2 separate regions of the Homo sapiens genome follow, and region 2 is linked to region 1. The links come from fine-mapping of genetic effects on gene expression. Tissue or cell type: whole blood. Region 1 holds a variant in brackets; the other region holds the start of a gene. All regions are shown on one strand. Distances are from middle to middle.

Region 1 (4,179 bases):
CGGGGTTTCACCATGTTGTTCAGGCTGGTCTTGAACTACTGACCTCATGATTTACCCGCCTTGGCCTCCCAAAGTGCTGGGATTACAGGCGTGAGCCACTGCACCCGGCCACATTTGGACTTATTAACACATATGAAGTGCTTGGTATTTTAGAGTGCTTCCACACACACAATCCTCATTAGAGATAGACAGGATGGGGAGAATTAATAAGCCATTGCCCGTGTTACAGTGAGGAAGCAGAAAGATGAGAAGTTTGAACTTTGGTCAGCCTGGCTTTCTCATAACCCATTTTGCTGACTAAATTGCGAGTATCCCTCCTTTGGTATATTTATTGGTGAGAAGTCACAGCCCTTGTCCCACAGGTTTTGCAGCCAATCAGGAGAAAGAAATTAGGCACCTGTAAAGTATTACTGAATCATAGATAGTTCACCAGTGGTTTGGGCAGTTGGCAAATTAATTTAGGGACATCTGTTCTGAAACAGCATTGAAATAGGACTGACTGCTTTGCTTTCTGGTTGTGGCAGCCAGAGCCAAAGGCAGATGAATGAGGGGCTATGAGGAGGCTACTGTGGCTGGAACAGTATGAAAGCAACCTCAGCTCCCACGCCTGGCTGTAAAGGGGATAATAACTGGGTGCTGCTTCCCAGCCTCTTTCATCTGAGAAGTTCAAAGCACCTCACCCCTATTAACACCCCACAGAGTAGGTAGGAAGTACCAATAGAGCAAGCCAGGAAAACTGAGGCCAGGAGGCACAGCCTGGGGCTAGCTGTGAATCACCTGTGGGGCCTAGAGCCCAGGAATCCTGACGCCCAGGCTACTGGACAAATCCTTTATCAGGGCATTAGGGTGGGTGCTATGCTTTTGAAAGCAGTACCAACGGCTGTGGTCGTGGGTTTTGATGCTTGCCACTCACAGAGGCCCCAGCTCTCACCATAACAAACCAAATGGGGGCTGGAAGGCATCCTTTACAACTTTATGGTCTCGTATGCAAGCACCCTCAGCATTCTCTGCACCCATGGAGTGGAGATGGGTGGGAGTAATCCAAGGCCTTTATTTTCAGGCCATGGTTTGACAGCAAGGGTATTTTCTTCCCCAATAAACGTAGCTTCTGTCTACCTTCCACTGGCAGCAAAATGATTTTCTGTTCTCTGCATATACTGAGGGGATCTGCACAGTGCAGAAAGGAAGATGTCCGAGATCCAAGTGAGGCCTGTTCAGTGTGAAATGTCTAGGGTAGAAGAAAGACCATCCTCCATTATGGCTGGCATGTGGCAGTCATCCTTAAGATTATTTTTAAATTTCCTAATAAATATAGGAAAGTAAAAAACTTAGAAAATGAAAGAGAAGGCCGAGCACGGTGGCTCACGCCTGTAATCCCAGCACTTTGGGAGGCCAAGGCGGGCTGATCACCTGAGGTCAGGAGTGTAAGACAAGCCTGACCAACATGGTGAAAACCTGTCTCTGCTAAAAATACAAAAAAATGAGCAGGGCATGGTGGCATGCGCCTGTAATTCCAGCTACTTAGGAGACTGAGGCAGGAGAATCGCTTGAACCTGGGAGGCGGAAGTTTCAGTGAGCGGAGATCGCGCCATTGCACTCCAGCCTGGGTAACAAGATGGAAAGTACATCTCAAAAAAAAAAAAAACGAAAATGAGTCACCCAGAATCCCATAACGGAAACTTTCTATGGGGTCATCTGTTTAAGAGAAAAATAAATTCTATATTCAAATGTATATTTTGTGTATTCTCTTTTTTTCTCATCTCTGTAAATACCTGGAGATATTTTATGTATTCTTTCAGCCTTATTTTTATACCTGGGGTGGATATTGCATTTATATAAGTGGGATATTTTATAATTGTGTTGTATCCTGCCTTTTTCAGTTAACACCATTCCATGTAATAAAAAATAGATACAATTCCTGTAATTC[T/C]AGGACTCTGGGAGGCTGAAGTGGGAGGATCACTTGAGCCAGGAGGTGGAGGCTGCAGTGAACTATGATTGTGTCACTGCACTCTAGCTTGGGCAACAGAGTGAGACCCTGTCTCAAACAATCAAGTAAATAACCTTTTTAATGTCACTTTGGTAATAGTCCATGGTTTGGCTATAACATTGTTTACCTATCCATACTCCCGTGGTTAGCCTACTACTAGCCTACAAGTCATCACCAACTTTTACTTTTGTAAATAGTGTGATTAATATCCTCGTACCCAAATCATTGTCTGAGTCTCTGATTTTTAACTTGGGAGGTAGTCCTGGAAATGAAATAACTGACATATTCCAGGTTCTGGATTCATGTTGCCAAAATGCTTTCCAAAAAATGTGCCACTTTACATCTCACTGATAGTGTCTGAAATTGCTCTTCTCATCTCCAGACCTCCCTTGACAATTCTCTACAACTTCGGGAGGGAGGAAGCCCTCTCTGAGTGTCTTAGAAGGGACCTTCCTGGTCATCCCTACTAACCACTGACATTAGGTTATATGCATTTCTTGGCTCTGAACTGGGAACCTCAACAATTAGAAGACAGTGTAGAATTGGAAGAACTTAGCAGGGACCACAGGTAATTGGAAAGGTTTCCAGCCTGACAAAGAGGCTTAGGCATGAGGGTGAGGCCCTAAAGCCCACAGAGCTGAAGCACATCCAGTCTGCCTGGATTAGCAAAATGCTCACCCGCTGGTGGCTGAGAATATAGGAAGTATGGTCCCATTAGGATCTGTGGGAAAGAGAAAGGGAAGGCCGATTTGAGGAATTCTCTGTCCCTTTCTCAAGAATCCTGAGGGGGGAGGGGAGTGGCTTCAGACCCACCCAAGCACTATTAAGGCCCTCGCCAATTTTGAAAGCAGTGAAGAGGCCCAATTATCCCGGAATCCTGGAGGGAAATTCTCTAGCAAAACACTAGTCCCCTCCTCTCTCTCTTCTCTTGTCTCTGGCTTTTGAGTCTTTACTTACCCAGCCTGATCTGGGCCATTCACTCTCTTTTCTTGTCCCGTTTAGAAGGAGTTGCAGCACATACCTCCATGGCATCAGGCCTGCTAAAGATGTGGAAACCTGTGTCCCTCATTTCAAGCCCAGTGTGACCTTTTCCAGCCAGGGAGCTAACTCCAGGCAGCCCCAGAAGCCCAGGTGTCTAGATGGGCCAAGACAGGGGCTGTGACAAGATGGGGTGGGGATTTAGGGGCCAATTGAGGTGGAAAAAAGACAGTGAAAACAAGTAAAAAATGACAGTATTGGTAAATTGCTCTGGATGAGAATGCACAGCGAAGGTTGTTTTTTTCTCCTCATTCTAAAACTCTGAAGCAGTTGTGGAGGAGGGACATGAGAGGCCCATTCACAGCCATGCCAAATAAACGTGAATTTTTTTTTTGAGACAGAATCTTGCACTGTTGCCCAAGCTCACTGCAACCTCCACCTTCCAGGCTCAAGCCATCTCCCACCTCAGCCTACTGTGTAGCTGGGACTGTAGGCCCATGCCACCATGCCTGACTAATTTTTGTATTTTTTGTAGAGATGGGGTTTCGTCATCTTGCCCAGGCTGGTCTCGAACTCCTGAGCTCAAGCTATCCTCCTGCCTCAGCCTCCTAGAGTGCTGGGATTACAGGCATGAGCACCCGGCCAAATGTGAAGTCTAATGCAGTGTGCTTGCCATGTCAATGTAGCTTCCAGGAATGTCCCCTAGTGCCTCCCTTTGCACTGAATTGTCACCTCCAAGTTCTTCCTATATTTAATCCTGGAGCCTCCACATTGTGGAGTCACAGAAACAGCAAAGAACGGAGACTGGGACATGGGTTAAGATTTCCCTTGGCCGGGCGCGGTGGCTCACGCCTGTAATCCCAGCACTTTGGGAGGCCGAGGCGGGTGGATCATGAGGTCAGGAGATCGAGACCATCCTGGCTAACAAGGTGAAACCCCGTCTCTACTAAAAAATACAAAAAATTAGCCGGGCGCGGTGGCGGGCGCCTGTAGTCCCAGCTACTCGGGAGGCTGAGGCAGGAGAATGGCGTGAACCCGGGAAGCGGAGCTTGCAGTGAGCCGAGATTGCGCCACTGCAGTCCACAGTCCGGCCTGGGTGACAGAGTGAGACTCCGTCTCAAAAAAAAAAAAAAAAAAAAAAAAAAAAAAAAAAGATTTCCCTCAACTCATAAATCATATAATCTCAGTAATCTCAGAGGTCACATAATTTCTTT
Region 2 (4,179 bases), 49 kb after region 1:
CAACATAGTGTGCTTGTTACTGGGCTAAAAGCTTGCATGTGTGACCTCATGCCACCCTCAGGACAACCTTACGGGGTGGGTACTATTATAAATCCCATTTTACTGATGAGGAAACTGGGGCACTGAGGGGGTGAAGTGACTGCCCTGAGGTCACGCAATTAGTGGGTGGTGGAGCTGGGATTTGAACCAGGTCTGTTAGAGTTCTTAACTACACTGTATAATTAAGAGGAACAACCACAAAGGATGGGGAGTTGGGAGGGGACAGCAGGGCTTATGAAGCAAGGGTGGGTGGGTGGGCGTGTGAGTGTGTGTGCAAGGAATCACAGTGCAGGTGGCTCAGAGGTGGGTGGAAAACTTCTAATACAAATATATGACCCTCCATCCATAAAATGGAGATTATGTGTGGGCCAATCCTGGGTCACCGGGGGATATGAAGAGGACAAAAACCTAGGGGGGCAAATATGACCTGTCACACGAAAGCACTCCGAAGTCTTTCCTGAAAAACAACAAGGCACCGCAGCTGTTGCTGATGTGGAACAGGCCAGAGGGACGTTCCAGAATGTTGAGCAGGGAAAGAAAGCCAGGTGGTCAGCAGGGGGGCCAGGGGCCTGGGAGCCGGCTGGGTGGAGGCGGGCGGGATCTGAGGGAAGGACAGGAAGCTCTGGAGAACCTAAGGAAGGTTCTGGAGAAGGAAAGGGGGCCCGAGAGGCCCAAAGATTTTGAGAAAAGATGCCTTGGGGCCTAGGGTGTGCGTGGCTGAGGGGAAGCAAAAGCGGGGTTGGTGTCTGAGACTAGAGAAAAGGAGGGGACCCTGGAGGGACCCGGAGAGGGCAGCGAGGATGACTAGGATGTTTATGGTGGGTGTGCACAGCCAAAGGACACACAAGATCTAGAAGTGGTCAGGAAGGGATACAAGGGTCAGAAAGAACTTGGGGGGTTGGCAAGAGATGGTCCAGGGATGGGTGAGCAGGAGGGGCCTGTTCAAGAAGCCCTGGGGCAGGTTCTGAGAGGGCAGCGAGGATGGGGGCCGTGGAGGGGCATGGAGGCTGGTGTTCCTGGCAGTGGCAGGCAGACAGGTGCCAGGGTGGGGTCAGGGAGAATGGAGGGGCTGGGAGGGTGGAGGGCACCAGCGCGGATGGGGTACCCAAATGGACCAAGGAGGATGGGGCATCTGGCGGGGATGGGGGTGCGCAGGGGCCAGGGGGGCAGACAAGAGGCCCGAGGAGGATCCCAAAGGGGCGGGGAGGATGAGGACCAGGGAGGCGAAGGGGAAGGCACGGAGTGCCCAGCAGGGATTGGGAAGGTGGGGTGCGCGGCAGGGGGCTGGGAGGGGGCGCCGAGGCAGCGGAACTCACTCAAAGACGAAGAAGAGGCCGGTGGTGGTGAGGATGAGCAGCAGCGTGAGCGCGAAGACGCCGCCGTGGCCGGCCAGCATGAGGCGGCCGCCGCAGTAGAAGCGATTGCGACCCGGGAACACCTCCCACTTGCGCCGTGGGCGGCGGCCGAGGCTCCCGCTCCCGCTGCCGCTGCCGCTGCCGCTGCTGCTCCAGCGCGGCGGGGCGGGGGCGGCGGGCGGCGCGGGCCCGGGGCCCGGAGTCGGGGACGCGGCGGGGCCGGGACGGCGCGCCCCCGGGGAGGCGGGCAGCGGGGCGGCCCCGGGGCTGATCTGCTGGTACTCGCAGTCCTTCATGCAGCCAGCCGCGGGCCTCGGCTCCGCGCCCCGCGGGCCGGCCGGGCCACTCCGGGACCGGGCCGAGCAGCGGAGGTGGCAGCGGCGGCGCGCGCGGCGCTCGCTCGCTCACTCACTGGGGCGGCCCCGCCATCGCTCCGCCCCCGGCCCGCCGCCACCGCCCGCCGCGGCCTCCCGCCGCAGCGCCCCCTCCGCCTGGGCCCGGGATGGCGCTTGGCCGGAGGCCCAGCTCTGACCCGCGGCGGGGCCCCGCAGGTCCCCGGCCCTCCCAGTCTCCCTTTTCCCTTCTGCACAAAGAGGGGGCCAGCAGACGCGCACTCGAGGGCTCTTTCTGTTCTGCAAGCAAGCCGTTTGTTGGGCGTCCACTGTGTACCAGGCACGGTGCCAAACGCCGAGATTCAGGTGGTGGACTTCGTGATCTACTTCTGGCAGTCTGTAATTCCCCAGGCTTCGCCCATCTCTGAGGGTCGAACTGACAGGCATTTGCAGAGGCAGGCAGGCGCGGGGAGGTGGGGCACACGATTTGCTTTGAAAGCCAGGACCTCTTCTACCTTGAAGTCCAGAGTGCCCACTGGAGGTGTGTGGCACACCCTCTGGCCTCGTTCACCAAGTTCTGTGTCCTGGGCCCAGGCCCAGATTTTCCTAGGTAGCACATAATGTAGAGGGGTCATGCCTGAGGGCCCCAGTGTTTTTTCAGGAATTCTGGGAGTATTCATTTTCTACTGCTGTGTAACAAGTTACCACAAATTTAAGGCTTAAAACAAACATTATCGGCCGGGCGCGGTGTCTCACGCCTGTAATCCCAGCACTTTGGGAGGCCGAGGTGGGTGGATCACAAGGTCGAGAGAGACCATCCTGGCCAATATGGTGAAACCCCGTCTCTACTAAAAATAAAAAATTAGCTGGGCATGGTGGCACGGCATCTATAGTCCCAGCTACTCGGGAGGCTGAGGCAGGAGAATTGCTTGAACCCAGGAGGTGGAGGTTGCAGTGAGCCGAGATTGTGCCATTGCACCCGGCCTGGTGACAGAGCAAGACTCCGTCTCAAAAAAAACAAAAAACAAACGTTATCTAACAGGTTCCAGGTCAGGAGCCAGAGAACAGCTTAGCTGGGTCCTCTGCTTAGTCTCACAAGGCTGCAATCAGGCTGCATTCTCATCTGGAGACTCAGCCAGGGAAGAATCCACTTGCAAGCCCATTTGGGTTATTGGCAGAATTAACTTCCTTGCGACTGTTTAACTGAAGAGGGCCTGGGATTTTTGCTGGGTGACTGTATAACTGAGGAGGGCCTGGGATTTTTGCTGGGTGTCTGCTGGAGGCCTCTCTCAGGATCCAAAAGCCACCTGCAGTTCCTAGAGATTATCACATTTCCTTGCCATGCAGGTTTCTCCTACATAGCCACTTAGTTTCTTGAAACTGACAATGAGGGTCTCTAGCTCCAGACTATGATGATAGAGTTTTATATAACTTACTATATATGTGACAGAGTGGCATCCCATCATCATTGCCATCTCCTATGGTTAAAAGCAAAGCACAGGAGCCATCTGCACTCAAGAAAAGGGAATCACACAAGGCGTAAATACCAGGAGGCAGGAATCATTGGGGGTCAGCTTAGGGTATGTCTGTCACACTGTGGTTACTGTAAAACCTAAGGAAAAGTGCAAGGAAAAAAAGAACTGGAGACTAGGAGAAAGTAAAAAAGGAAGTAAAAATATACAATGGGGAGGAGTAGGAAGCCGACAACAGTGACCTTAAGGATCAATAATTGATATATATGCCAAAGGCTGCTCAGCCGTGCCTTTGGTGCCAAAGGCTCTCAATATGATGAGCCCCATCTTGAGCAAACCACATGGTGAGCTTCCTCCCTTTTTGCTCCTTGGCTGTGGAACAAAGTCACAAAACTAGACATACTGGTTCCAGTACAGATTCCTGTTGTCCCACCTTAACTGGGTCCTCTTGCAACCTGAAACCTTTTCTTTTTTCTCGTCACTTTACAGAAACCAAAGCAATCCTACTGGATTTTCAGTTTACCTCCTCTCTATCTCATAATTTCTCTTTATTTGCATCTGTCCTTTCTTCTTTTTTAGAAGATGTGGGCCTCCTTCTGTCCATGGCCAACCCTCCACTCATATCCTTATTTTATTTTATTTTTTATTTTTTTGAGATGGAGTTTCGCTCTTGTCACCCAGGCTGGAGTGCAATGGCATGACCTCGGCTCACTGCAACCTCTGCCTCCTGGGTTCAAGTGATTCTCCTGCCTCAGCCTCCCAAGTAGCTGGGATTACAGGCATGTGCCATCATGCCCGGCTAATTTTTGTATTTTTAATAGAGACGGGGTTTCACCATGTTGGCCAGGTTGGTCTCGAACTCCTGACCTCAGATGATCCGCCTGCCTCGGCCTCCCAAAGGGTTGAGATTACAGGTGTGAGCCACTGCACCTGGCCTCTTTTTTTTTTTTTTTTAAGTAAGGCTGATGGAACTCCATTTTA

Evidence for each region. PIP is the estimated chance that this variant, and not a neighbour inherited with it, causes the effect.
Region 2: ZDHHC18 starts here. The variant in region 1 is the best candidate, but not a certain one, in a credible set for the expression of ZDHHC18 in whole blood (INTERVAL, PIP 0.73).

Annotation. Positions count from the first base shown.
Region 1 is chr1:26,873,685-26,877,863 of GRCh38, reverse strand. GPN2 (GPN-loop GTPase 2) reads left to right here. Exons shown (of 5, transcript NM_018066.4): 5 at 1-1,732. It overlaps GPN2-AS1 (GPN2 antisense RNA 1), which reads right to left and starts at 1,730. Exons shown (of 2, transcript NR_199049.1): 1 at 1,554-1,730. RefSeq lists an enhancer at 2,491-2,990. The variant T/C (reference allele first, on the strand shown) is at 1,928.
Region 2 is chr1:26,824,316-26,828,494 of GRCh38, reverse strand. ZDHHC18 (zDHHC palmitoyltransferase 18) reads right to left here and starts at 1,807. Exons shown (of 8, transcript NM_032283.3): 1 at 1,356-1,807. The coding sequence starts at 1,690. RefSeq lists silencers at 1,540-1,749, 1,760-1,909, 1,873-2,025.